Homo sapiens: one gene and its partners. The protein of the gene in region 1 interacts with the protein of each later gene in a biochemical or structural test. Each region holds a gene or a part of one and is shown in the gene's direction. Other genes may lie near its edges. The genes, in order: SENP1, RABGAP1, PIM1 and UBE2K.

What was found.
Region 2: of the proteins of SENP1 (region 1) and RABGAP1, one has a biochemical effect on the other in vitro, tested with the Homo sapiens proteins (one study listed by BioGRID).
Region 3: of the proteins of SENP1 (region 1) and PIM1, one has a biochemical effect on the other in vitro, tested with the Homo sapiens proteins (one study listed by BioGRID).
Region 4: of the proteins of SENP1 (region 1) and UBE2K, one has a biochemical effect on the other in vitro, tested with the Homo sapiens proteins (one study listed by BioGRID).

The regions. Positions count from the first base shown.
Region 1 is NC_000012.12:48,041,866-48,047,444, reverse strand, and holds the end of SENP1 (sentrin-specific protease 1), read left to right. Parts: intron 1-382; coding exon 383-467; intron 468-993; coding exon 994-1,089; intron 1,090-2,060; coding exon 2,061-2,123; 3' UTR 2,124-4,548; downstream 4,549-5,579. UniProt on the Homo sapiens protein: Protease that catalyzes two essential functions in the SUMO pathway.
Region 2 is NC_000009.12:123,069,749-123,077,644, forward strand, and holds part of RABGAP1 (rab GTPase-activating protein 1), read left to right. Parts: intron 1-601; coding exon 602-676; intron 677-1,663; coding exon of another isoform or gene 1,664-1,729; exon of another isoform or gene 1,730-1,753; intron 1,754-3,803; coding exon 3,804-3,929; intron 3,930-4,536; coding exon 4,537-4,680; intron 4,681-6,496; coding exon 6,497-6,538; intron 6,539-6,885; coding exon 6,886-7,014; coding exon of another isoform or gene 7,015-7,023; intron 7,024-7,896. UniProt on the Homo sapiens protein: May act as a GTPase-activating protein of RAB6A. May play a role in microtubule nucleation by centrosome. May participate in a RAB6A-mediated pathway involved in the metaphase-anaphase transition.
Region 3 is NC_000006.12:37,165,710-37,173,872, forward strand, and holds the start of PIM1 (serine/threonine-protein kinase pim-1), read left to right. Parts: upstream 1-4,442; 5' UTR 4,443-4,593; coding exon of another isoform or gene 4,594-4,866; coding exon 4,867-4,948; intron 4,949-5,063; coding exon 5,064-5,170; intron 5,171-5,271; coding exon 5,272-5,322; intron 5,323-5,415; coding exon 5,416-5,782; intron 5,783-7,286; coding exon 7,287-7,463; intron 7,464-8,163. UniProt on the Homo sapiens protein: Proto-oncogene with serine/threonine kinase activity involved in cell survival and cell proliferation and thus providing a selective advantage in tumorigenesis.
Region 4 is NC_000004.12:39,770,469-39,778,364, forward strand, and holds part of UBE2K (ubiquitin-conjugating enzyme E2 K), read left to right. Parts: exon of another isoform or gene 1-1,231; intron 1,232-4,365; coding exon 4,366-4,465; intron 4,466-7,213; coding exon 7,214-7,342; intron 7,343-7,891; coding exon 7,892-7,896. UniProt on the Homo sapiens protein: Accepts ubiquitin from the E1 complex and catalyzes its covalent attachment to other proteins. In vitro, in the presence or in the absence of BRCA1-BARD1 E3 ubiquitin-protein ligase complex, catalyzes the synthesis of 'Lys-48'-linked polyubiquitin chains.

The DNA.
Region 1 (5,579 bases):
AATAAATACCTCAATAGTACCAGAAAAACACTTTTCTTCCATTAGATTGAGTTCTAAAGGACCATATAAACCAAGGAAAAGAATAAAAAGAATTGTTCCTCAGAAGGAATGGTAGGTAGAAGGAGCTTAACTGTTAGAGGCAGAGGTCATGTTCCTTTTGAGTTGACAGAGTGGACATTAGAAGAGACAAGCTAGAAGAGGCATGCTCAGCTCTGGAGAAAACTTAACAATCCAGGGATTCCCTGCCCAGTATTATATACTCTTTTCCTCAGAAGAGCAGATGAAACAAATTTGTTCCTAGGTATTGTCAGCCCCATTCTTAGTGTGGCAGCTGTCATCGATGTTCCCCACTGCTTATCTCATTCTCTCCTGATACCTTTAGGCAATACCTAAAGCAAGAAAGCATTGACAAGAAAAGGAAAGAGTTTGACACCAATGGCTGGCAGCTTTTCAGCAAGAAAAGCCAGGTACCTTTCATCTTGATGAAATAAAAGTCCTAAAAGTAGGGTATTTGGGGAGGAAAGAATTTTACTGCTTAATTCCCAGGGACCACCTGTGTTCGTGTCTAGCCTGACTTCAGCTTGGTTGGTTGGTTTCTGGGGGAGGATAAATTAAGCTATCCGTAGGAAAAGTGATAGTGTGTTTCTTATGTAGAACTAGGTTTTCTAAATGCCCAGATATTTTACTAAGCTTTTCACTCCTAAGGGGAATGTTTGCTGATTATTTGGCCTCTGGGGGAGGGAGCAGTTTTTATACCCTTAGGTGCCATGGGAGTCGGAGATATTCTCCTGTTTGATTAATACAGAGTACACAGACCTGACTGGAATGTTGTATTTTGTTTCTTTGAGCCTCTGTTGTCCTGACTGGGGGGCCAGAGTCATCTGTTTGTAATTTAGAGAAACCTGTACAATTTATATCTTTTGGTTCTTATTTTTAATCTAAGAAGGAAAGAAGCTTGGAAAGATGTCATTTTTTTTGTTGTTGGTCTTCCAGGAGATTCCTCAGCAGATGAATGGAAGTGACTGTGGGATGTTTGCCTGCAAATATGCTGACTGTATTACCAAAGACAGACCAATCAACTTCACACAGGTGAGCTGAGCCTTCCATAGGGAGCTCTAGGATTACTTTGTCTCCAAGCTGCCCTGTAGATGTTTTTCTCTCCAGTTGTTCTCTTTAGGGGCCTCTACCCTAACCTTTAGCATGCTTCAGCCCATGATTCATAACACTGATGGTTACTACCTGAATCACATCACAAAAGAAAGAAAATTAGTGATAAGCCACGTCCTGGGTTACCACACCTCAGTTATTGTAGTAAAGGTTTCAAGAGCAGAACCTTCTCTGCCTGTCTCCTCTACCTACTGTAACTTCTAGAGAGAACTGGGACCAGAGCAGGTTTCTTTAGTTCCCTTGCATTTCGTTAGTAGTCAGGTTTGGGAATAGGCCATACCTCAATCTCCTAGTGTAATTTGTTATGCTGCCCCCTCCCCTGACCCCTCACTTGATGAATCTGGTCAGTCTTCTCTTAGAGAGTGATTGGTCATTTCTGTCCATGTGGTCTCTCAGACCAAAGTGGATTGAGATTAGAGATTATGGTTTATTCTGATGTGTTCTCCACTTTTACTTCTGTTTGAATCAGTGACTTTACCAGATTTTTCTACCATAGCCCTTTGTCTAGACCAGCCTGAGCTGACTCTTCAAGTTCCCTTAATTCTTCTAAAAGGTGAATTTTTTATTTTTAGGCCTAGGCTCATATCCTCTTAAAAGTTCAACATAGAAGACTTATTAGACACCATTCTCAAAATTCTTAGAGACGTGGGCATAGCCTGGGGATTCCTGGAAATACCCAGTGTAACTTCTAAGGCTATAATGGTGAAAAATAACAATAGAAAAAGCAATGAAAAGAAAAAAACTACATGTAACCAAGAATGAATAATTTAAAAGACCAGAAATACAACTGAGACTGTTTGTTGAAAACCTTGCAAAAGAAAGAAGTATGGGGAAAGGCGTATCAGGTCTAGACAAAAGCATTGAAAATTAAGGGTGTCTCTGTGTCCCTACAGCAACACATGCCATACTTCCGGAAGCGGATGGTCTGGGAGATCCTCCACCGAAAACTCTTGTGAAGACTGTCTCACTTAGCAGACCTTGACCATGTGGGGGACCAGCTCTTTGTTGTCTACAGCCAGAGACCTTGGAAACAGCTGCTCCCAGCCCTCTGCTGTTGTAACACCCTTGATCCTGGACCAGGCCCTGGCGAGATGCATTCACAAGCACATCTGCCTTTCCTTTTGTATCTCAGATACTATTTTTGCAAAGAAACTTTGGTGCTGTGAAAGGGGTGAGGGACATCCCTAAGCTGAAGAGAGAGACTGCTTTTCACTTCTTCAGTTCTGCCATCTTGTTTTCAAAGGGCTCCAGCCTCACTCAGTCCCTAATTATGGGACTGAGAAAAGCTTGGAAAGAATCTTGGTTTCATATAAATTCTTGTTGTTAGGCCTTACTAAGAAGTAGGAAAGGGCATGGGCAAAAGGTAGGGATAAAAACCACCAGCATATACATGGACATACACACACACCCACACACACAAACACACACACACACACAATTTTCACGATGTATGGTCAGGAATGTGACTGTAAACTGGACTTTGGGGCCCAGGCATAAGTCCCTTCCTCCAGGACCTTTCCTATTTATATGTCCCTATACAAAATCCATCTGCTTTTATACGTAGCTGTTTTATCATCTGTAGCTTCATCCTATCCGGAGGCACAGCACATGAGCCCTGGACAGGTCCCAAAGTTCCAAGCAGTCCTTTCCGTGAAAGCAGGGGTTTGCATGTGCTACCAACACATGATACGGGGAAGACCCACCCAGGGAGCGGTTTCAGTGGCGCAACAAAGCACCACTTTTACTGTTGCCTACTTCTGACCAAGAAGAAAAAGGACCTTAGTATTTAGCATAAAATTCCAGCGCTGGATGAATGCAGATCTAGTTTGGTCTGTGGCTAGTTTAAATATGTTTCTAACCACAGAGAATTTCATATATATATACATATATATATACACATACATATATATATATATATATGTATGTATAAAATTTCACAGGGATATGCTTTTTTTTTTAAAGACTGAATGTGTTCACCATTTAGCCTGTAGATTTATTTCCATTTTCCAAATTCCAGCACACAGAGATCCCAGCCCCTATGAGTAGGGTGTTTGTGGACTACCTAATGGAATATTTTTGAGGCCTGGATGAACTTTGCCATATGGGTAGAGGTTACAGAGGGAGGTGATATTTTCAGCTAAAAAAAAAAACGGGTGGAGTTTGGACTGATCAACTTGAGATTTAAAAACTGCTATTCCTTTTGTTCTTTCTAGCATCTCTCCCCACCCTCTGAGAGCTCCTCAGGCTTAGATAGTGAAGTGATCAAATGCCAGTGTCATTTTGTACTTAAGTTCCAAAGTAGGAACATTTTATACTTTTTTCTGTATTGTAATAGGTAGTTTTGTATGAAATCTTTTCTCCTCTCCCGTTGTACCGCATTCTTTCCAGCATTGTGCTTTTTCCCTGGGCTTATTTGAAAATTTTACTGTTTTATACAAGCTCGTTTAGTACATTTTTCTATGTTTTACCACAAGTTACAATTTGAAAAGAAAACTATTTTTTTTAAATATTCCATTGTTAACTGAATGTTACTGTTTCCACTCCAGCAACTACATGTCCTCCCTTCAACTGCCTGCCTTTTGGGGAAAGACCACCTTTTGTGTGTTTGTTTTTTCTCTCTCTTTCTTTCCCTTTCTCTTTCTATCTCTCTTTATTTTTCTTTCTTTTTCTTTGTTTTTGAGTTTTCTATAGGAAATAAATAGCTTTCTATATATGAGTTGCTGGGGACCTTCACATTCTCTTTTAGAAAGCTGTGGCATGCAGTCTCATTGCAGGACTCCTGGAATATTGTCTGGTTCTTGGTATTTACTGTATGTAAGCAACAACTTGAAAGGTGGCAATATGGTGTCGATTTGGACTATGAATCAAAAGACCTTTTTCAGGTTCTTTCACTATTGTCTGGGGGACTCAGAACAAGATTGTTCTCTGTATTTATTGTTTGTCCATTTAGGTAACATCTGTCTTACCTTCCTCACAGACTTTGTACAGACCAAAGCAACAAATATTTATTGCCATGTATAGCAGAAAATGAAACATGCAACAAAAGCACTTTGAAAAATATATAAGGAATTGTTGAGCCTGTCTGAATTTGGGCCCCCTTTCTGACTAATGCAGTTTTGCACAAGGTAGAAGTTAGTGACCCTGAGACCATCTTACCACCCTGGACCTGGTCCAAATACAGACTTACACAGTGGACCATTCTTTCCTGAGCTAGCCAACAAGAGCAGGAGTAGTATCTGGAAACTTTCCCCTTTGTTTAGGGGTAGGCTTTGATGACCAGGAAAAAAAAAAAGGTATTTCTGCATTTTATGGCCCAAAGGCATGTTATTAATATCTTATGTAATTTACTTTAAACTAAATAAGACTTTTTTCTCCTGTGTTCCCCTTTCTCCTGTGTCCACTGCTCATATTCACCTGCCTTCCCTAAAAAAGGAATATTTGAGGGATGATAAGCACTAGATGCCAGCTATAGAGACCTCAACAGAAACCATAATCCCAAGAATCACTCCGAGACCCTGAACAGAGAATATCAGACAGACCTTTCTTACCCATTTGAGAAACACATGGTCTGAGGCACAGAGGCTAGTTACATCCCATTTGTCACCTGGGACCCACCATTGCTCCCAGGAGTCCTATTTAGGGTTGAATATAAGAGTACTTTTCCCTCATCCAGTCTGGGGAATTTGTGTCAATTGACTCCTCTGTATGAGATGCTTCATACTTCTATGTGGAATTAATTTCTGTATTCTTTAGCCACTGTAATCATGCTAGCATCTTCTATCCACTGCCCCCAGCAATGTTAGCACCAAGATCCTGAGGTAGAAACAGAGATAACCTGGAAAAGCACTTCCACCAACCCCATCTCATAGCCTGTCCATTACTGCCTGGTTTTACATGGCCCTTAAGTGGCTCTAGTGGGTAAAGGGGGAAGAGTTCACTTGAGAGCCCCAATGTTTTTAATGTTTCAGTTTCTGGTCCTGTGCCATCCCTCCAGCTTTTAAATATGTCTTGCTGGAGTAAGAGAGAGGACTGACACCTGGGGTTTCTTTTTGTTTGGTCCACCTGGATGGACTAGCATGAGGTGGAATATGATGCTTTCACCCTGGGAGTTCACATACCCAAGAGAGTCAGAAAAAGAGGTGTTAGGCTATTAGGCCCTATTGTTAAACAGGCCACGTGCTGAACTACTGGGAAGGGTACCTTATTTTCCCGCCCAGGAGCAATGCATCTACAGCTTGGAATTCCATGGGAAGGGACAAGGCTCATCCCAGCATCCTTTATTATAAGTCTAGGGCCTTGTTTTACCTGTACTGACTCCTAACATCTGTCTACTAAGAACACACACTACCATTCCCAGCTTTGAAGGTGGAAAAGGAAACGTGGGACAGAGGGTTATGCTGGTCACCTGTTAA
Region 2 (7,896 bases), on another chromosome or scaffold:
TGGTGCAAGCCTGTGGTCCAGGCTACTCAGGAGGCTGATGGAGCAGGATCCCTTGAGCCCAGGAGGTTGACGCTGCAGTGAGCCATGATTGTACCACTGCACTCCAGCCTGAGCAACAGAGCAAGACCCTGTCTCTAAAAATAAAATAAAATGCAATGTGGTAATAATATAATAATAACCATGCATGTATAGCAGGTGCCATAGAGGCAGAGAAGAGAGGAATTCATTCTGGGGGAATTGAAATAAGTTTGGTGCCTGAAGGAAGAGTGCATGTTTGAGGCAGAGAGGGAAAGGACATCCCAAGGAGAGGGAACATCATGAACAACAACAAGGAAATACGAAGTTTTTTTTAGCGCAGAAGTGGTTTTTCCTTAATCTTCCCTACTCCTTCGCCACAGGAAATGCAGTGGTGATAGCTGTATTCATTGTAAAGAAAAAGTTAAGATTGGAGAGAAGTATTGGCACCACTTACTGTCTGTCAAAATGCTGTCCCAGTGTGGGTAGCATCCTCCAGGGTTCTGTATTCAAGGTCCTATAGTGCCACCATGGCCCACAAGTGGCTACATTCATTTACATTTCCTCTGTGTGTTTTATTTTCCAGGCTTATTCTGTGTATGATGAAGAGATTGGTTATTGCCAGGGCCAGTCATTTCTTGCTGCTGTGCTCCTTCTCCATGTGAGTAATTAGGTCTCTGTTATGACTTAACACATGGCCTCCCTCAGCTTATACTAACCTTAGGCTTGAGCATGGTTTTATATTGGGTTTGGACAGACTCTTAAGGCATGAATTTTAACACCTATAGCTGGAAACTTTTTCCTTAAATTAACTTAATGTCATTGTGGAGGAGATATATGATGAGAATAAACGGCAATGTTGAAAACTGGTACAGGGGTAGACTTCCTTTTTATTAATAGGATGATTGGAGAGACTTTAATGTTGGTTGAACTCTTGGGGACGTTTTATCTTCTCTAAAGTAGCCGCTGTCATTAATACTTGTTTTGAGATTTAGGTATTGGGGTAGGAGGAAGGCGGAAAAGTTGGTTTTCTTTTAGTACCATTTTATTCATTCATTGGCTTAGCAAACACCTTTGCCCTCCACCTTTTTTATTTTCTTTCAAATCCACAGAAAACTCTAAACAGTGTTAAGGTGAACAGTCTTTATCTAGTTTACCAATTAATATTTTCCACACTGCTTTTTCTGTTTGTCTCCCTCTGCATCTCTTTTTTTCTCTTTTCTGCATAAACACACATTTTCTTTTTTACTTAAATTGTTTTTTGAAATTATTCTTGAAAGTAAATAACAAACATCAAGACTTCTAAATACTTGATCATATATATGCCTTCTGGGAGCACAGAATTCTGTATCATAATCATAATACCATGATCACATCCAAGAAATTCCACATTGATTCAGTAATGTCTGATACACAATACACATTCAATTTTCTCCCAATTGTCTACTCCATAGAATCTAGCTTTTTTTCTAATCAAGATCTAATGAAGATTCAAATATTGAATTGTCATTTCTCTTTATTCTTTTAATCTAAATTACTCCTTTGCCTTTTTTTGTGTTTCATGCCATTGATAGTTTTGAAAAATTCAGACAAATTGTCATATAAAATGTCCCACAGTCTTGATTTGTCTCATTTTCTCATGATTCAGTTTAAAATGCTTGGCAAGAATACCACACAGGTGATGTCAGCAAAGAGTTTTGAGTACCTGTTATGATCTGTACTGTGCTGAAGATCAGAGGTAAATAAGAGACATGGTCTCAATCCTCCTGGATACAGAGCTTGTGAATCCAACTAGCTTTAAGCACATAATCACACAAGTATATCATTTATTACTTTCAGTGGTGCTATTAAGGTATAATAAAAAGTTTGGTGTAAGATTGTAACAAGGGAGTCTTACTTAGATTAAAGGCTTCTCAGGGGAAGTGACCTGTAAGGAGCAGCCTGGAAAATGATAAGGGATATCATTTTCTTTTGCTCTTTTCTGTGTTAACTTTTCAAAATGTTGTTATGAAAATAATAGATCTATTTGAAAAGGGAGTAGAGAATAGAGTGTTAATGGGAAAGTGAATGGTACAGTATACAGAAGTCCTAAACTGGGGAAACACTTGGTGTATGGGAGGAACTGAAAGGAGGACAGTGTGACTGGAGTATCCTGAGTGACTGGGAGTTGAGGAGAGAGCTAGGGAGAGCTTTGAAGCCCAGATAAGGAGTCTGAATCTTGCTTTTCTAAGCAACAGGTATTCAAGGGTATTAAGCCATTTTGTGTAGATTGCAATACAAGTTTGAGTATCCCTTATTTGAAATGCTTGGGACCGGAAGTGTTGTGGATTTTGGATTTTGGATTTTGGAATATTTGCATTATACCGGTTGAGCATCCCAAATCCAAAAATCCAAAGTGTTCCAATGAGCATTTCCTTTTAGCATCATGTCAGTGTTTAAAAAGTTTCAGATTTTGGAGCATTTTGTATTTTCAGATATGGGTTGCTCAACCTGTACAAGTAAAACAAAAACCACTTTGGTTTTTCTTAACTGAACCCAGCTTGTTGCTATTGGTAGTCATGTAAAAATATGATAAAGCTATGACATGAATAAAGAGGTTGACTTTTTATTTTGTTTTGTTGTTTTAATGAGACTTTATATCTCAAAGTCCCACAAGCCTGGGTGATTTATCTTCGTTCTCACCTTCAGTTCAAGGACATTTATCCCCTTGAAAATGGGTTTTCCAATCAGACCCTCCATGTCTTGTTTTGAACTCTTGCTGCTTGCCAGAGTGTTATAAGTGCTTGTTTAGAGTGAGGGGAGATGGGCTACTTAGCATCAGAATCACCACTGTGGGTTAGGCCACATCTCCTTGCATGTGGCAAAGTGAAGTTGCCTTCCATGACAAAGACTTCAAAGATCTGGGCTTTTGCCCCAGATACTCTTAACTTACCAGTAATGATCTGCTATGCTTTTCTCACTTATTACTTAATCTGATTTGCTCTTTAGTTCTGCTTTCTTCTCAGTGATTTCTGTGCTCAGCCCGCCTCCATCATCTTGTTCCATAGAAGCCTGCCCACCTTCTTGACTTTTTTGAAGGCTTGCTACATTCACACCAATCCTTAAATAACATTTCCAGTGCTTCTTTTTTCTCTTTTGAAAATATCTTGCCAAGTTCTCAGGGAAATAATTATCCATAAAACTATGGAAAATGTAGGTATTATTATAAATGTAAATAGAAGTGAAGGAGGCTTTTGTAGTACTTCAAGCATTACTGCAAGCCTTAGAATATGTAAGGTTCTTCTAAAACAAGCTATATTTTTAACAGTGAGGAAGAAAAACAATTTTGCTAGAATGAAATAGCAGCTAAGGGAGGAAAAATGGTTAAACAGAGGTCCCAGGATTTGGGAAAGATGACACCTACACTGTATATCAGCCTATTTCTGCTCAGCTCAAATTCTGTCCTTTCTACAAAGTCTGTTTCTGACTGCCTTAGGCAGATACAGGCCTTCCTGTTCTTGTATTATCACTGATGTCTAATTCCTATTACAGTTATTTTAATACTGGCTGTGTGAGAGACTCCTTGAGGACAGGAACCATACTGACAAAGAGTAGTCATTGTTAACTATTCCTTGTTTGAGTGAATAAATGTTTTAAACACAACCTTAGGCCTGAGTTTCTGCATAGCACTAAATTTTCTGGTAAGGCAATAATATAAAGCTGGATTTAATATCCTGAGAAAACTTCTGTATGTTTTGTGATTCCCCACCGCCATCCTCCCTACCCAACAACTTGCCTATCTGTTACAGATGCCTGAAGAACAGGCATTCAGTGTTCTGGTCAAGATCATGTTTGACTATGGGCTCAGGGAACTTTTCAAGCAAAACTTCGAAGATTTGCATTGCAAATTTTACCAGTTGGAGCGCCTCATGCAGGTAAAAAGAGAAACCAGCTTGTGTTTGACAAAAAGAGTACAGGACTAAGGAGCACCAAATTGAGGAAATGGTGCCAGGGAGCATTGGTAATTGCCTTAGCGATCCGTGGCTAAGGATGGGTTTCATTTTTATCCTTTATCACTATGTGATTATGATGCAAAGATTAACAAAGTGTTAAACTTTCACACCTCATGGATGTGAGCTGATAAACTCCCAAAAGATCAGATGACTTTGTTAGGGGTCTTTTCCACAGCTAACTCAGTCAAGAAGTACTCCCCAAGGCTCTGAAGCTGACTGGTTAGGAATCTCATAACAAAAGTGAAACAAACTTTCCCAAATGTTTTTTACTTTGGAGAGAAAAACAGGCTTTCCAAATACTTGTCACCATTTTGGGGATTCCTCTTTCTTTAGAACAAGTTTGTGGTCTGGAAAAAAGAGTTGAGTGCCAGCTTAATACCAGATGATAAGTGTTCTAAGCACTTTGGAGATTTTTAGAAAAACACAAGTATTTTACTTTTTTGGCCTATTCCTGGTAGATTTATGAGCCTCCTTAGTGGGAATTGGACAGATGCATATGTGCCCAGAACTAATTGGTTTGCTATTTCAGGAATACATTCCTGACCTGTACAACCACTTCCTGGATATAAGCCTTGAAGCACACATGTATGCCTCCCAGTGGTTTCTTACTCTTTTCACTGCAAAATTCCCTCTCTACATGGTCTTCCATATCATCGACCTGCTTTTATGTGAGGTATGTATCAGAGGCCACAGCACTTTGGCTTTTGTTTGCAGTGTACTTGAGGAGAACAGATTCTGTTTTGAGTGTCAGCTCTGTCAAAACAGAATTGGTCTCTTTAATTATTTTATTTTATTGCTAGGAAATCTAGGTTTAAGTGACTTCCTTGGACTAAAGCTAATGATCGTATTTGTTAAAGGTGTACTCTGAAAAGACGTACTGAATTAGACATTTGTATTAGTTCATATTAGTTTTGGCTGTATTGAATGAAGAAACCCAAAGTAACAGTGATTTTAAAAAATAGCTTTTTGCTCTCTTGTGAAAAAAAGTCAATGTTGGCAGTAGCGTGCCTTCCCCTCACTCTGGCTGTTAGCCGTATGGAGGAGTAGCACACCAGCCATTATATCATATTCAAGCCAGGAGGATTAGAGGATGGGAGAGGGTGCCTCCTCTGTTTTCAAAAGAGACTTCCTGGAAGTTCCATCCAGTATTTCCACTTTATGGTCAGAACTTAGTTACATGACCACACCTAGCTGCAAGGGAGACTTTTTAAAAAATAAGCTGAGCAGGAATTTGCTAAAAATTAGAGATTTATTACTAAAGAGAAAATAAGATATTAGAGTAAATAACAGTCTTTGCCATGACGTAATTTTGGATTTTGTGTGGTGTGTTTAAGAAAAACATAATTATAAAAATAATATATGTTTATAGAAAATATAAGTAAAAATAATTTAAAATACTACAAATCCCACTGTCTATAGGTTACCTCCTTTAACAGTTTGGTTAAAAGCAGTATCCTTTCAGCCTTTTTTATGTGTTCATATATGTGTATGTATAATTACTATACAGAATAGTATGGTTTCCATATGGATGGAACACTATATATATTATGGTTCTCCTATGTGTATATTTAAAAATATGATTGTTATTTATACTCTTTGGTATCCTCTTTTTAAATTTCATATACTTGAACATACACATCTGTACTATCCTTTTTAATTATGCTATATTCAAAACATACAAAAATTCATAAAGAATTTGTATCTACCACTCAGCTTGAAATATTCTAAGAAACAGAAGAAATAAATATTACCAAATATGCCGTTTTTCTTAGTTGCTGCCAAGTATCCCATTATTTGGATGTGCTATACTTTATGTAACCAATTTCTAATCACAAACCTTTAAATTGTTTCTAGCTTTTTAGTAGTATAAACAACCATCTGTTAAGTAGCTACTAAAGGCCAGGTGGCATGCTAAGTAATTTACATAAACTTTTCAGCTAATTATCTCAGAAAACCCATAGGAGAGTATTAGTTATGGAAACTGAGGCCCAGCAGCTTAAGCAGTTTAACTTGATCAACAGATGTTAGTGCTTCCTCTCCTTTGTTCTTAGCCCCAGGATTTGCAGAATGGAGGGAGCCTTGAGCAGATTCAGTTCTGGAATATAGGGCTTATCGACAGAGTGGTTGCTGTGCATGGATTGGGACAGCACAAGATAAAGGAAAAGTTCCCCAGGAGTTATTTCCTGAGAGATCACAACTTTATGACTGATCTTTTGGTTTGGAAGCATGGAATGCTTTGGAAAAGCATTTCTTATTATTGAATATGAGAACAGGGCAAGAAAAGCTCTTCTCTCAGAAAAAGGGGAAGCTAGGTCTTTAAGCAGCTTTTCAATGGCCCTTTAGTTTTTATTTTTCAAGGTAGTTCTGAGATAATGCATTTCCTTCCTTAAGTTTTCACAATTTCTTTAAAAATGTGGGGTATAAGGACAAATAGCATAATAGTCGAGATATAAAAACTGACAGTGTTCTTTTTGTCTGTTCTCTTTCAGGGAATAAGTGTTATTTTTAATGTCGCCCTTGGATTATTAAAGGTACTCATTTATTTATTAGCTGAGTTATCTGTCATTCCCTGCTCTGCACTTGCAATACATTGGTTGTAGTCTCATTCTGAGCAGTCACTGTGCACTAGCATTACCCATGACAGTGGATGTATGCAGGTGGCTCTGACAAAAGCGAAGAAATATCTTCTGGGGATTATAAAAGTGCTGGAAATCTAGCATTACCCCTAACAGTGGATGTATGCAGGTGGCTCTGACAAAAGCTAAGAAGTATCTTCTGGGGATTGTAAAAGTGCTGAAAAGTGCTGAGAATATAAAAAACTTCTTGTGCATCCTTATAGCAACACATTTTTTCTATATGTGTTTGTATTTTCTTCAAGACTTCGAAAGATGACCTGCTGTTGACAGACTTTGAAGGTGCCTTGAAGTTCTTTAGGGTTCAGCTTCCTAAGAGATACCGCTCAGAAGAAAATGCAAAAAAACTAATGGAATTAGCCTGCAACATGAAGGTAAAATAATTTTGCATTAGTTAAGATTCTGTTTTTCACTTAGTGTCTCACTATTCCTGATCATTTATAATACATAATTATTTATGTATTATATTTATAACATTTATAATACATATTAGTGTTAACATTTATAATATATAAATAATATTAATGATGTTTTCTTCTGTATTATATAACTCTTAACCTTTTTTTCCCCAAAATACTTTCCTATATATTATAATCCTACGAATGAAATCTCGTTGTCCCCCCAACCGCCAAACTATAGAAGAGTATTAATATCCCTGTTTTGAGACAAATCAAAACAAAAAGAGGTTGTAGTTCCCTAGTTGTACACCTGGTTAGTGGCAGAATTCAGGTTTCAGGTTTCATGATTTCTTCTACTGTGCTGGTTTTTTGTTTTTGTTTTTTTTTTTTTCTTTTTTTTGAGACAAGGCTAGAGTGCAGTGGCACAATCATAGCTCATTGCAGCCTGGACCTCCCAGGCTCAAGCGGTCCTCTCACCTCAGCCTCCTGAGTAGCTGGGACTACAGGTATGTGCCACTACACCCAGCTAATTTTTAACTTTTTTTTGTAGATTTGGGTTCTCACTATGTTGCCAAGGCTAGTCTCAAACTCCTAGGCTCAAGTGATCCTCCCACATTGGCCTCCTAAAGTGCTGGAATTACAGGAGTGAGCCACCACGCCTGGCCTTAACTTTCAACATTTGTTCTGGTCAGAAGTTCCCTAAAACAAAGCTAATAATACATGAAGAAAACTCAGTTTTATCACTTCAAGTGGCATTTGTGATTCGCACAATTTTTTTAAAAGTAAAAAGGTATAGGATCTTCTTGTGTTCATGTTATCATAACATTGTATTGTATTGTATTGTATTGTATTGTATTG
Region 3 (8,163 bases), on another chromosome or scaffold:
CGTGAGCCACCATGCCTGGTCTTTTTAAATTTAGAATGTTTCCTGTCTGGCCAGGCGCGGTGGCTCATGCCTGTAATCCCAGCACTTTGGGAGGCTGAGGCCGCCGGATCACTTGAGGTCAGGAGTTTGAGACCAGCCTGGCCAACCTGATGAAACCCGTCTCTACTAAAAATACAAAAATTAGTCGGGTGTTGTGGCGGACGCCTGTAATCCCAGCTACTTGGGAGGCTGAGGCAGGAGAATCGCTTGAACCCGGGAAGGGGAGGCTGCAGTGACCCGAGATCATGCCACTGCACTCCAGCCTGGGCGAGAGTGGGACTCTGTCTCAAAAACAAATAAACTAAATAAAATAAATAAAAAACTGAGTAAATTTTTTTTAGGAGATAAATGAGTGATGCAGATTCAATACGTCTCTACCTGATTAATTATAAATAGCGTATAGAGTCTTAGTTATACAATCCTAGTTATATAAATGCATTGACTAGACTTACAGACACTTTAAAAAATTGTGTACCGATATCACTTTCAAACTTTCTTCTAAACTTGTTTTTTAAAAAAATTTCGTGACTACAGAACTTGCTGAAGTCATTGTTTTTTTGTTTTTTTTTTTTGCATAAGCATATAGTCCCTGGATGAAGTCATTCCTTTGACAATGACTTGATTAAACCCATATCAGGCAGAATATGAAAACCACCTAAGGATTAATTTGGATATTGTTCAAATTAATATTAATAAATGCTCCTCTTCCCAGAGAACTGTTAGCATAATTGTGGCCTTTTATCCTTCCAAAAGCACTTGTCATTTAATTATTAGGGTGATTTTTCTGATTCTTTGTTAGATTCTTTGAGATAGCACAAATAGTGCTAATTTTATTAAGACTATATTTCGATAAATCAAAACATCAAGTTCCCTACTCTCGAGGAGTAACTTTTGACCCACAACACATCTGAATGTTTACTAATTATCTTTTAAAGCAGTTTTAAGTAAATCAAAGCTGTTTGCCAAGCAAGGTCCATGTTTTGTAACTTCCAGCTGTGAAGCCCCCACTATACAAAGTAGATATATTAAATGTTAATCACTTTAGCTCTAATTAAATATTTAGTCCTTCAAAGACCTAGAAAAAGTGAAAAAGGTTGAAGTTGATACATATTTTTTTTTCTAAAAGGCCTAAAAGATCTACTAGAAACAACTATTTTAAATCACATCTCTCCCCAAATGGTTAAAAATCGAACTATTAATCCAGTAGTTTACCTTTGGTACCTTCTAGGTGTAAGACCGTTTGGGCTGGGCGCGGTGGCTCACGCCTGTAATCCCAGCACTCTGGGAGGCCAAGGCAGGTGGATCACAAGGTCAGGAGATCGGGACCACCATGGCTAACACGGTGAAACCCCGTCTCTACTAAAAATATAAAAAATTAGCCAGGCGTGGTGGCAGGCGCCTGTAGTCCCAGCTACTCGGGAGGCTGAGGCAGGAGAATGGCGTGAACCTGGGAGGCAGAGCTTGCAGTGAGCCAAGATTGCGCCACTGTACTCCAGCCTGGGAGACAGAGCGAGACTCCGTCTCAAAAAAAAAAAAAAAAAAAAAAAGGCCGTTTTAAAAAACATCATCATCATAACCACGATCAACATTATTGCCATCATCATTGCTAATATTTATTAGAAGTTTACTCTGTACTGGGTTATATGCTTTACAAACAAGAGTTTTATTTGCTCCTTACAACAACCCTATGAGGTAGATGCTGTTATTATCTCCATTCTGTCTAAAGCTTAATAAGGTTAAGTAACTTGACCAATGCCTAACTAGTAGCTGCCAGATCCCGGAATTGAAACCAGGCTAACTTAGTTTAAAGCCCTTGCTCCCAACTTTTATGTTCCCGAAGCCCACTTAATTCATTTAAATTTGGTATAAATTGACTTTAATTATGGCCTTTTTGTTAGAATCCATTATAGTCTTCTCTTTTATCAACAAATGTTGGATAAAGTATGCATTCAGGGAGGCTGGGCATGGTGGCTCACACCTGTAATCCAAGGAGGCTGGGCATGGTGGTTCACACCTGTAATCCCAGCACTTTGGGAGGCCGAGGCAGGCGGATCATAAGGTCAGGAGTTCGAGACCAGCCTGGCCAACATGGTGAAACTCCGTCTCTACTAAAAATACAAAAATTAGCTGGGCATGGTGGCGGGCGCTTGTAATCCCAGCTACTTGGGAGGCTGAGGCAGGAGAACCAATTGTTTGAACCCGGGAGATGGAGGTTGCAGTGAGCCGAGATAGTGCCATTGCACTCTAGCCTGGGTAACAGGGCGAGATTCCGTCTCAAAAAAAAAAAAAAAAAGGGCATTCAAGGAATAGGAAGACAAAGTATAATGGAAAAGTAAATGAACAAAAAGGATTTAAAAAAACAAATCCCAACTGTCAGATTAGTGGACAGTGAACCAATGCTCTGAGTTTGTTCATCAATCTGTGGTAGAACTACAATTGTTTCCTAAAGAGTGGAAAGGCTTTGAATAAAAGTGGAGAGGTAGAGAGGGCTCTCCCAGGACAGGTTGATTGCTTCCGCAAAGGCAAAGGGTCTGTAAAGTGCTAGGCGAGTGGGAACAAGTGGGAATAGTTCTGTTTGACTACATTTGAGGGTTTGAGAAAGGAAAGGGAGGGTAGAAGGGATGGAAGTGGGAATCACATATGTTTAATGATGTCTTGTTCGGTGCCAAGGACAGTTTTAGACCCTGATAAGCGGAAAGCTTTGAATACTCAGGAGGTGAATTTGGGTCATTTCATCTCCTCTCTTAGCTGCTGTATGACCCTGTGCCATCCTATTTATGTTTCATTTTCCTATCTGCAAAAAGGGAGTAATTCTTGTTCCCTTGGGTTTTCTCCTAGTCATAAAAAATGAATGAGTTCGGCCACAGTACACAAACAAAAGGAAAATATGTAATATTTTGTAGGATAAATTCATAAAAGTTGTGGAGGATCTGGGCACTTTTATAAAGCAAGCACTGTAGAAAACTTTCAAAGGAAACATTTAAATTCACTAATGACAGCTATAGGGATCCTGATTTTTCCTTTAAATGGCAGGCACTTCAAAAAATTAAAATAGAATGTAGTTAGCTTTCAATTACTTAGGCCACTGACAATTCAATTTATGGATTATATAGTATTTTAATTTACTCATTTCACACGTCGTTATCAACTCTACATGAAGTTTAAAAGGACAAAGGATGCAAGTGGAATTGGTCAGTGTTCCGGGTTATTTCCAAGGGAGGCAGAGGGTGGGGGGTTTCCTTTGAGACAAGACTTGGGGTTGGCCAATAATTGCTGGTATTGCCTGCCTGGTAATAACAGGCTGATGAAAAGGTGACTACAACGTGAAAACTGGTTAAATCAAGCGCACCCTCCCACCCTCGTTTTAGATGAGGAATTTTCCGCCCTCACAGAAGGGGCTGAGGCAGCATCTGGCATCACAACACTAACATTTGCTTCGTGATTTCCTCTTTACCCGGCCCTTTGACACACATCCCTTCCCAGAAATCAGGATTCGCTGGTGCTTTTGCATTTCTAAAATGGGAATCCCGTGGCTGAGCTTTTAGCCGGCCGGAACGACTGAGGGCTGCATCCCTTTCCCGCAGGAGCGGGGCTCCCGCCTCCAGTTCTGTTCCAGGCCTGACTCCTCCACTCCCTCCGTGACTCATGTCCTGCGGATCCTTCGCCCCCGACGCGCCCCCCAACACACAAACCCCCAGAATCCGCCCCCAGCCTACAGCGCGACGTCAGCCCGCCCCAGCCGACTTGGAGGTCTCGGGTCTGAGTCACACAGAAAGACCACCCTCGTCGGCATCCCCACACACAGTCCGACACCCGGCGCGCCGGCCTCCCCGCCTGACACACTAACGCCCGTCGTCTCCGCGCAACTTGTTATGCTCCGGCTCGAGCCCTTGACCCAAAACCCTCAGCGAAACGGAGAGCCGCAGAGCCGGCCTCGGGCGGCCTTTGATGGCTTTGTTATTGTTTGGGTTTGAATCGATACGCCCCTCCCCATCCTTCCTCCCTCGCGGCCCTACACCCAGCTCCCGCCTCCCCTCACGCCCCGCGCCCCTCCCCCTCCATTTTGGCGCCTTTTCCTTCCCGCCACGTCGTGGCGGCGTAGAGACCATTCTGACCGCGAGAGCTGGGCGGGGCGGGGGCGGGGCGCGCCGAGTTATGCAGATCAATCGGCCTCTGGTTGGCTGGAGTAGCGCTGGCAGGGGCGGGGCCGGGGCGCGGCCACAGAGCGCGCGGGGCGGGGGCCGAGGGGAGTCGCCCAGTCCCGCCGCTTCCCCACCCCCTCTCCTCCCTCGGCCGGCCCGGCAGCCCTGCTCCCCGCCTTGGCCTCCCGGAGAGGCCCCGCCCCGTCCCCGCCCGCCGCGCCCTCCCCGCGCGCCCTCCCCGCCGGCGCGCTCCTCCCCTTTACTCCTGGCTGCGGGGCGAGCCGGGCGTCTGCTGCAGCGGCCGCGGTGGCTGAGGAGGCCCGAGAGGAGTCGGTGGCAGCGGCGGCGGCGGGACCGGCAGCAGCAGCAGCAGCAGCAGCAGCAGCAACCACTAGCCTCCTGCCCCGCGGCGCTGCCGCACGAGCCCCACGAGCCGCTCACCCCGCCGTTCTCAGCGCTGCCCGACCCCGCTGGCGCGCCCTCCCGCCGCCAGTCCCGGCAGCGCCCTCAGTTGTCCTCCGACTCGCCCTCGGCCTTCCGCGCCAGCCGCAGCCACAGCCGCAACGCCACCCGCAGCCACAGCCACAGCCACAGCCCCAGGCATAGCCTTCGGCACAGCCCCGGCTCCGGCTCCTGCGGCAGCTCCTCTGGGCACCGTCCCTGCGCCGACATCCTGGAGGTTGGGATGCTCTTGTCCAAAATCAACTCGCTTGCCCACCTGCGCGCCGCGCCCTGCAACGACCTGCACGCCACCAAGCTGGCGCCCGGTGAGAGCACCCCCCGCCTCCGGCCCGGGGATGCGGGGCGGCGGCGGGATCTCCTGGGTGGGGAGCTGGCGGCTCGCGGGCCGGCACTGAGTCCCCGTGCTTCCCCCTTTCCTAGGCAAGGAGAAGGAGCCCCTGGAGTCGCAGTACCAGGTGGGCCCGCTACTGGGCAGCGGCGGCTTCGGCTCGGTCTACTCAGGCATCCGCGTCTCCGACAACTTGCCGGTGAGTGGGCGCCCCGCGGTGGGGAGGGCGCGCCGGGCGGGGGGCGCACGGGCGTGCTTTAGCCCGGACGAGGGAACCTGACGGAGACCCTGGGCTTCCAGGTGGCCATCAAACACGTGGAGAAGGACCGGATTTCCGACTGGGGAGAGCTGGTGAGTGCCCTGCAGGAGCGACCCCCAGGATGAGTGGGTGGGGTGAGGGGCGCCCCCGACTCCCGCCCTAACGCGGCCCCCTCGCCCCTGCAGCCTAATGGCACTCGAGTGCCCATGGAAGTGGTCCTGCTGAAGAAGGTGAGCTCGGGTTTCTCCGGCGTCATTAGGCTCCTGGACTGGTTCGAGAGGCCCGACAGTTTCGTCCTGATCCTGGAGAGGCCCGAGCCGGTGCAAGATCTCTTCGACTTCATCACGGAAAGGGGAGCCCTGCAAGAGGAGCTGGCCCGCAGCTTCTTCTGGCAGGTGCTGGAGGCCGTGCGGCACTGCCACAACTGCGGGGTGCTCCACCGCGACATCAAGGACGAAAACATCCTTATCGACCTCAATCGCGGCGAGCTCAAGCTCATCGACTTCGGGTCGGGGGCGCTGCTCAAGGACACCGTCTACACGGACTTCGATGGTGAGCCAGGCCCGGGAGGGAGCTGCCCAGGTGACTCGGCCCGGCCCGGCCCAGTCCGGAGGCCTCGGCCAGTCTCCCGCGCCAGCCTTTTGTAAAGGTCATTGGGCCGCCTGGCTCGATGCTAGCCGGGGTGGGACGCAGGAGAGCCTCCCAGCGTAGTAAAGCCGGGGATTTTCAGCCAGCTGAACCTGTAATGTTTCTGGCATGATTTTATTCTTCAAGTGGAATTCAGTTAGTTCCAGGCTTTCCCGATGAATAAGAGGTTGTGGGCAACCGGCGGTAGCCCAGATTTTTCTAAAGTCTGACCCAGTTTCCCCGCCAGTAAAAGGATGGGGGCGGGGGAAGAGGTGGAAATTGATGCCGGTTTTGTAATTTTTGTTTTATTTTATAAGGGAGTTAGTTTTCTGTATGGTAGTTTTAGAGCTGCAGTTCTTAACTCCTTTCTGATCTAGGGAAGGTTAAGGAATAGGAACTATATTATTACTGGTGGCTTTTTTTTTTCTTTAGTGTTAAGGGGAGAGAGAGTCAGGAATGAATGTTGTGAAATAAGATCTGTCGCTGGTTTGAAAATTAGTTGGGTGTCTCCGCAGAGAGGATGAAAACCTATCCTAGGGAGGGGCTTGGAGCGGGTTCTTTCAGAAAAGAAGGAATGGAGAGCCTGAGATCAAAGCTGCGGAGGGTGGGTCATCATCTGAGCGGCTTAACCTAACAAACGACAGCCTTTCAAAACTTGTGACTCGGGCTTGTGGTTTATGTTTATTTGCCCTTGGAGGACGCTGGGTTGGGCTGCATTTTTTGTATTTAACAGTTAATGGCTGGCCGGGTCCTCCCATGTTTTTTCTTTCAAGTCTTTGCTGCCCCCTGGTGAGCACCAGCGGCATGGCCCCTCCTTTTTCTTTTACTACCCAAAGTTTGTAAACAGGAATCACGTGGTCTGAAACCAACCCTGCAGCTCTGTCTACCTTTCCAGTCTAGGGAGGAAAGGGTGTGGGTGTCTGCTCCTGCTTGCATCGGGTGGGGAGGAAGGCCTCCCAAAGGGCACCCTGACTTAGGATGTTGTGCAAGCATCCTTGCTTGGATCCTGTCGGCCATGAGAATCTCACCCGGGCTCCTGGGCAGTGGTGAATGCAATTTAAGGATAGTCTATGAGATACCTTTCTTGGTTGTGCAGACATGCATCCCTTCATCCTTCGCAGGCGGTCCTGCCTCACAGGGCCTCAAGTTTTGGGTCTGCGGCCAGCTGTGTTTGTTTCTTGGAGCAGTTCATAAAGAATTTCAGTTTATGGTTTGGGCTAGCAGAGAGGTGGGTAATGCTTTGGGTTGGAGAGATGCCGTAAGGTGCGCCTCCACTCTCCTTAGCCCAGAGGGAAAAATGGAGTTCACCTAGCTCCTGAGAGAAGGGATTTTTTTTTTTTTTAAAAGAAAGAGTTATATATACCACCCAGCTTCTTTGTGCTTGTTTTTGCTAAAAGTGTGTTTTCTCTTCTATTCCCTTGGCTCACAGGGACCCGAGTGTATAGCCCTCCAGAGTGGATCCGCTACCATCGCTACCATGGCAGGTCGGCGGCAGTCTGGTCCCTGGGGATCCTGCTGTATGATATGGTGTGTGGAGATATTCCTTTCGAGCATGACGAAGAGATCATCAGGGGCCAGGTTTTCTTCAGGCAGAGGGTCTCTTCAGGTAACTGATGGAAACCCCTGGCCATGGGGTTATTGGTCTTAATGGGGCTATTAGTCTTCATGGGACAGTCTTTGAAATTCTGGAGAGCTTCACTCTCCAGTAGATTCTGTCACCCTTGGCTTAGAATTGTAGGTGAGTGATTTACACTTGAGCTGGCCTCATAAATCACATGGTTTGCACTTGAGCTTTCCTTGGGAGGTCAGAGGAAGGCATGTGTGAGCATATTAAGAAGAAAAGACAATCTGGCTTCTCCAAAAACTTTTTTAAAGGTACCAACAGAAACCTGATAATTCCTGGCTGTTTTGCCAGGGAGTAAAAAGTTAAAAGCTCTTTTAGCATCTTCTTTAAGGCAGCAGCTCCAAATATTTTGGTACCAGTGACCTCACTGTGGGTGGTGTTCGTGTTTGTAAGTTGGTAGGTGAATTGAATCATTTCATCATGCTCAGTGGTGTCTCATCAAAATCTCTTGTCATCATCCTTCCTATTTCTGGTGAGTGGGTGTTGTGGGAAAGGCCCCCACTATTGAAGTTTGAAAACCACAGGTTTAAGAGGGGAGTCAGTTTTTAGCTGAAAGCAGACTGGAGGACCCAGATATTAGTCAATACCTTCCTATTGAAGGGTACCCAGCACAGTGTTCTAGAAAATGCTTGGCCTCCCTGGGACCCCAGACTTGTGGGCCTCTGAGAAGCAAATGGGGAAG
Region 4 (7,896 bases), on another chromosome or scaffold:
TTTAAGGGGTTTCCACCTGAGAAGCTCCCAGGCAGGGGTCCCTGGCTGCCCCCCGCCCCCCGGGCAACCATGGCCGCCGCTGCTGCTTCCACCAGGCCCGAGGTGGCCCCCACGCTGGCCCGGCCTCCCGGAGTCAACAGCAGGCTCTCCCCTTCTGCGTTCTCCGACAGGCTATAGCAGGCCTTCACCACACCCTGCGGTGGGGCCACAGTGCTGGGGGGCACGCTGCTCTGGGCCAGCTCCCCAAGGTGGCCACCCACGGAGCCTCCAATGCCCAGGCCCCCTCCCAGGCCTCCAGGGGGCTTGAGCCGGTGTGCGATGTCCAGGGCCGACTCCACCTTGACGATGCAGATGTCAGATACGTCCTCATCCTCATCCTCTTCCTCGGCTTTCAGCTCCAAGTCCTCATCCAGTGGGAACTCCAGCTTCACTGGCCGCAGGAGTGGAGGGGATAGAGGAGGTGGGGGGTGGGGGCTTCGGGGCTGGCTTTGGGGTCCTGGCTGGAGGGAGGAGGGACTTGTTGGCGCTGACGCTGCTCACAAGGCTAGCCTCACGGACCCCATCCTCTTTGAGGCCTATTTTGGGCTCAGTGAACTGGCTGAGGGCATTCTGGCATTTCTCCACCACGTGCTCCATCTGCAGGTAGGAGGTGGCTGTAAGATAGTTGACGATGTCCCTAACAGCGAATTCCAGGGTGCCCGTGTAGCAGGAGAGAAGCAGGTCGGCCACGATGCGTGCACTGTGCATCAGGGAGACCTGCAGCTCCGAGCTGGGGTTAAGCAGGAACTGGTCCCGCAGGAACGGTGAGCAGGCGGCTAAGATGACCTTGTGGCCTCGAAACTTGAGGCTGTCGGCCACAATGGTCACGTCGCAGAACCACTCCTCTGCCCGGAGCTTGTTCATGTTCCGTAGCGTAGCGGCCTAGTGGCCGGGCAGCTGGAAGCGCAGGACTTCACCCCAGAGGCCATTGTGGCGGGGGTGGGCAACCCTGGCCCGGTTCCGCGCGCTGTTTTTTTTTAATCCCCTATTTTCCCCACCCCCGCGGGGCCGGAAGCGCCCCCCACACACGGGCAGAGCCAGGGCAGCATGTAGGCGCAGGGCGGGAGGGTGTATAGGGCGCGCTCGCGCTGGCGGGGCCGGCTCCACGTGGGCGTAAAGGGGTAGGGGCGGGAGCGGCTCGTGCGGTGTGTTCCAGGCCTCGCGCGCGCGGCGACGGCGTCGGCTAGGACTCAAACCCTGGAGTTTCTGATTCAGTAGCTCTGGGATAGAGAAAACTTCCCAAGGGATGCTGATGCTGCTGGTTGGATGAACAACACTGAGATCATTGCTTTAAGACATCCATTGTTGGTTGTTGGCAATAACTTAACTTTTTGGCTAGGGGTGGAGGTGTAGGAGACAGTCTGGCTGTCTCCCTCAGGCTGGAGTGCGGTGGCGCCATCTGGACTCACTATAACCTTCGCCTCCCAGGTTCGAGCGATTCCTGCCTCAGCCCCTCAAGTAACTGGGATTACAAGCATGTGCCACCACATCTGGCTAATTTTTGTATTTTTGGCAGACAGTGTTTCGCCATGTTGCCCAGGCTGGTCTCAAACTCCTGGCCTCAAGTGATCTGCCTGCCTCGGCCTTCCTAAATGCTGGGATTACAGGCGTCAGCCACTGCACCCAGCCTAAATTAACTTTTATCGTAGGCATCTAGGGAAGTACTATTTATGTACCAAACTTGGGAAAATTGAGAAAACAGTCACTAATTTTTTCTATTTTGTGGTTCAAATCAGGAACCCAGTTGAAAAAGGCTGGTTTAGAGTAATTGGCTAGTTGTCGTGGCTCACACCTATAATCCCATCACTTTCGGGGGCTGAGGTGGGAGGACTGCTTGAGCTCAGGAGTTCAAGACCAGCCTGGGTAACATGGTGAAACCCTGTCTCTACCAAAAAAAAAAAAAAAAAATTGTTTTTAATTAGCTGGGCGTGGTGGTGTGCACCTGTAGTCCCAGCTACTCAGGAGGCTGAGGTATGAGAATCACCTGAGCCAAAGAGGTCAAGGCTACAGTGAGCCTTGATTGTACCACTGCACTTTAGCCTAGGCAGCGTGAGACCCTATCTCAAAAAAAGAAAAAAAGAAGAATGATCTAATTTACATGGTAAAAATGGGCATTCTCTTTACATGTAACATTTTTAATATGTCCACATATTTATACATACCTCTATTAATTGATAAAGCAACTTTTTTTTTTTTTTGAGATGGAGTCTCGCTCTGTCGCCCAGGCTAGAGTGCAATGGCATGATTTTGGCTCACGGCAACCTCCGCCTCCCGAGCTCAAGCGATTCTCCTTCCTCAGCCACCTGAGCAGCTGGGATTACAGGCACATGCCACCACGCCCAGCTAATTTTTGCATTTTTTGTAGAGATGAGGTTTCACCATGTTGGCCAGGCTGGTCTTGAACTCCTGACCTCAGATGATTGCCCGCCCTGGCCTCCCAAAGTGTTGGGATTACAGGTGTGAGCCACCGCGCCCAGCCAGTGAGACAACTTTTTTTAACAGAAATGCCAAGAATTATTGCTAGACAGGTAGATACTATTTTTTAGACAAATATTAGCTTTATAAAGATATTTTCCTTATAAATACATTTAGAATCATAAATTAAGTGATGTAGTTTAATCCAAAAAACTTGTCCTGTTTCAGAATGTTATGGAATGATTTCATATTTTCTTGAAAATATGGCCGGGCGCGGTGGCTCAAGCCTGTAATCCCAGCATTTTGGGAGGCCAAGGCGGGCGGATCACAAGGTCAGGAGATCAAGACCATCCTGTGTCTCACGGTGAAACCCTGTTCTACTAAAACTACAAAAAATTAGCCGGGCATGGTGGCATGTGCCTGTAGTCCCAGCTACTTGTGAGGCTGAGGCAGGAGAATTGCTTGAACCAGGGAGGTGGAGGTTCCGGTGAGCCGAGATCGCGCCACTGCACTCCAGCCTCGGCGGCAGAGTGAGACTCCATCTCAAGAAAATAAAAGAAAAGAAAAAAGAAAATATATTTGTTTCATAGTATCTTGTTTTTAGAGTGCCATTGAAAGAAAGCCTCACATGCTATTAGTACTAATGATTTATCACTTTAACTTTGTTTAGAGAAATGGATAGAAAAATAAGTGAGTGGATAAAACTAACAAGAAGGTGGCTGGGCGCGGTGGCTCACGCCTGTAATCCCAGCACTTTGGGAGGCCGAGGCGGGCGGATCACGAGGTCAGGAGATCGAGACCATCCTGGCTAACACAGTGAAACCCCGTCTCTACTAAAAATACAAAAAATTAGCCGGGCGTGGTGGCGGGCGCCTGTTGTCCCAGCTACTCGGGAGGCTGAGGCAGGAGAATAGCGTGAACCCGGGAGGCGGAGCTTGCAGGGAGCCGAGATCGCGCCACTGCACTCCAGCCTGGGCGACAGAGTGAGACTCCGCCTCAAAACTAAACTAAACTAAACTAACAAGAAGGATCTTGGCAACAAGAAAAACAAGGACAGTTCAGAATTCGAGTTGTCTTAAGAAATAGAAAAGCTGGCCGAGTGTAGTAGCTCACACCTGTAACCCTAACCTTTGGGAGGCCAAGGTGGATGGATCACCTGAGCTCAGAAGTTCGATACCAGCCTAGGCAACATGGCAAAACCCCGTCTTTACGAAAAAAGGAAAAACAAAAAAAATGCTGGGTGTGGTGGTGTGTGCCTGTAGTCCCAGCTACTCGTGAGGCTGAGGCAGGAGAATCGCTTGAGCCCAGGAGGCGGAGGTTGCAGTGAGACAAGATAGTGCCACTGCCCACTCCAGCCTGAGCGGCAGAGCAAGACACTGTCATTAAAAAAAAGAAAAAAGGCCGGGCGCAGGTGGTTTTTCATGCCTGTAATCCCAGCACATTGGGAGGCCAAGGCGGGCGGATTACGAGGTCAGGAGATCGAGACCATCCTGGCTAACACTGTGAAACCCCGTCTCTACTAAAAAAAAAAATACAAAAAATTAGCTGGGCGTTAAGGCGGGCCCCTGTAGTCTCAGCTACTCTGAAGGCTGAGGCAGGAGAATGGCGTGAACCCGGGAGGCGGAGCTTGCAGTGAACCGAGACTATACCACTGCACTCCAGCCTGGGCGACAGAGCCAGACTCCGTCTCAGGGGAAAAAAAGAAAAAAGAAATAGGCAAATTGTAAAGTAAGGAAGAAAATATATGATAGGCAGATACATAATTATAAATGTCTATGACTTAACTATATAATTAAGATAAAGATCTAAGTAACTTTTAGCTCTACAATTTTTTAATTTTTATTAAGAAAATACTTTGCTTTTGCCTGCAGAGCCCTCTTAATTGGGATATTTTCATGTTTTGCATTTTAGGGCAGCTGCAATGACTCTCCGCACGGTATTATTGTCATTGCAAGCACTATTGGCAGCTGCAGAGCCAGATGATCCACAGGATGCTGTAGTAGCAAATCAGGTAAGATGGCCGCTTTTGAAAGACTTTCTTATATTATGTATGAGTCTCTAGCCACTTCAGTGGTTTGCACATTAACACATGAGCATACTCTATTGAAACTAAATTTTGAAATGGTTTTCTTTCTTGTGGTAGGATTATTTTGTCAGGTGTAATAGTGAAAATAGACTTTTAACATCCTAGTTTAATTGGATATAGATGCTGTTTTCCTAACATGAGTATTTTCAAACACATAAAGTCAAAAGAATTACATAGTGAACACCCATATTCCTACCATCTAGATTCTATGATTAATGCTCGTGTATGTGTCCATCTTTTTATCCTTCCTTTCAGTGATGATCCCTCCCTGCTAATAATTTTAATCACCTCCTATCATGGGACTTATGTGACATGGCACAGTTTCCAATGACCTTGTAATTTGTTGAACAGAATAAATATTTTTCATTTCGCTTTCTAGCTACAGTGGCTGAGTTTATTAGTTACAACGGAGACTGGACCTAAGTTATTAGTATCTGACCTGTTAAGAAACAGTTTGCTGGCCAGGTGTGTTGGCTCATGCATGTAATCCCAGCACTCTGGGAGGCTGAGGTGGGTGGTGGATCACTTGAGGTCAGGAGTTCCAGACCAGCCTGACCAACGTGGTGAAATCCTGTCTGTACTAAAAACACAAAACTAGCCTGGCGTGGTGGCACACACCTGTAGTCCCAGCTACCTGAGAGGCTGAAGTGGGAGAATCGCTTGAACCTGGGTGGCAGAGGTTGCAGTGAGCTGAGATCACACCATTGCACTCCAGCCTGGGTGACAGAACGGGACCCTGTCTCAAAAAACAAATTTGCCAACACCTACTCTAAGCCATTGGAATATAATGGACATTTTTTTTTTTAAACTTAGAAAGTTTTTCTTCTCTTGACTTCTAAGATATTACCCTCTTTTCTTCCTCACTTCATAGCTGTTCTTTGTTAGTTCCCACAATTATTTCCCTTCTTACTCGTCTTTCTTAAATGTAGTTCCTCAGTTCTGACCTTGTTACCTTTACTTTCTGTACACACTCACACTTGGATGATCATATCTGTACTGATGTTAGTACCTGTACATTGATAAAATGTTTAGGCTTGCCCTCTCTCCTAAGCACGAGAGCCTGGTGTTTAACTAAATTGGTAGGTGATGGTATCATAGAATGATAGGTTTGTAGGATTTATGATACTGCATTCAGTTTTGGCAGTGTTACATTCAGGTATCCAAGGAACATTCATATGGTTAACCACCCAAGTCACAGCCTTTGGAGTTTTTCTCTGTGTCTCCTTTGCTCCTGTTGATAACCATTCCCTGTATCATTCTGTCACTATATTTACATAATTACTCTGATTGCCATAGGTCACTTTTAAAAAATTGTTTCTTTTCAACTGCTCTGATAGATCTCCTTTTCTCAACCTCTTTCTTCCTTTCTCCATCTTCTACATTGCTATCAGGTAGCTTTATAAAGTGCAAATCTTACTTCACTAACAAAAACTTGTTCGTAGCTCTACTGTCATCTACTTGAGTCCAGATTCTTTAGTTTGCAGAGTTTTTCCATGATCTGAACTCTGCTTTATTTCCTAAATTCTTGTTTTCTTCAAACTCATGCTTTTTCAAGCATTGCATTCATTTTTACATATTGTATCCAATCTACCATATTTCCTCTGCCTGAGGAAACTTCCTCTTGGCAAACTTCTTTAACCTATAAGATTTTAATTTATATATTATCTTTCTTCTTTTCCCTTGAAGATCTGTTTATGTATATATGTATATATCCTTGTCAATATATTCTGTTATTTGTCTCAGAGTACTTCCAATTAGGGTTTTCCATGTTTTATATATGTGCTATTTGTTCATATTTGTTGTTATAAGCATGGCTTGTGTTCCAGCTTTGCTTTCCTATTGAGCTCTAAGCCTTACACGTTGAGGTTGGACTCAAGGGTTTCTTTTAGCTCCTAAAATAGTTCAATAATTTGACTTATTTCCTTGTGATGAATAAGTGGTAGAAACTAGATTTATCGTTTTAATATGTAATAGATTTAAATATATAAATTACTTTTAAAAGAAATATTAAAGTGAATTGAATAGTTAGTAATTTATACTTTGCTTTACTAAGTAATGGTGGTTCCAAAGTATTTGATAAATTTACCTCTTTCCAATGCATATGGGAAGTCTTTTAATAAAATTACTCTATTGTGAGTTTATAATCATCTCAAGTTATGTAATAAGTTAGGACTTTGCATGTGGGGTTTCCATAAATCACTGTACACTAATGCAGCTGTAAGAAAACAGAAGAATCTAGTTGTATTCTAGCCTGGGCTGTGGGTAATACAAAAGCTGGTTACATCGTAAAAAATTATTCTAATGTCCACATATTTTTATAAGCTAGTAATCTGTGTTCAGTTGTATAATGTTTGCTGCTTTCCAGTGTTTGGAACATCTCTTAATACCTCACTTAACCTAATTTTAGTCTTGCTAGTTATATTTGTTGAATTTGGAGATTAAAGTAGATTAATGTTACTTGTCTTTATTATTGTCAACACAAATTGTGAGTCGAAGCTTCAGGTTAAGTGGTCTTTTCTCGAGTGACATAGGTTGTCTATAATGCAAAGTGAATCACATTTTAAATGTAGATTTGTTTTATTTGGAAAAGTAGGATTGTAGGCGATTAAGAGCTGAAATATATCAAATATTATAACTGTAATGTCATGTCAATCAATTTTTCCCCCCATATAGTACAAACAAAATCCCGAAATGTTCAAACAGACAGCTCGACTTTGGGCACATGTGTATGCTGGAGCACCAGTTTCTAGTCCAGAATACACCAAAAAAATAGAAAACCTATGTGCTATGGGCTTTGATAGGGTAAGTACATAAGGGCATGTTGATTTTGATATATTGATTGATTTTAAATTATTGCAAATTCTTGGCTGACAAAAGTGGTTTAGAAAATAAGAGAAATTCGCAGCCTGGGCAACATGGCGAAACCCATCTCTACAAAAATTAGCTGGACATGGTAGTGAGTGCCTGTAATTCCAGCTACTCTGAAGGCTGAGGTGAGAGAATCCCTTGGGCCCAGGAGGTCGAGGCTGCAGTGAGCGATAGTCATGCCACTGCACTCCAGCCTTGGTGATAGAGCAAGACCCTGTCTCAAAAAAAAAAAAAAAAAAAAAAAAAAGGAAAATAAGAGAAAATCTAGTTTTGGTAAACATATTTTCTGTTTTCAAAGTCAGTGATTTTTTTATTTTTACTAATTACTGTCATTGATTTTAGAAGCTTTCCATGCACTGCAAATGTAAATCAACTTACAGAAAAGAAACAAGGTGTTAATTCCCAGTATAAAGAGTGAATGATTCAGTATTGTTTAAATGTTTCCTTGAGATTTAATTTCCTGTCCCCTTTTCTTCTCTACAGAATGC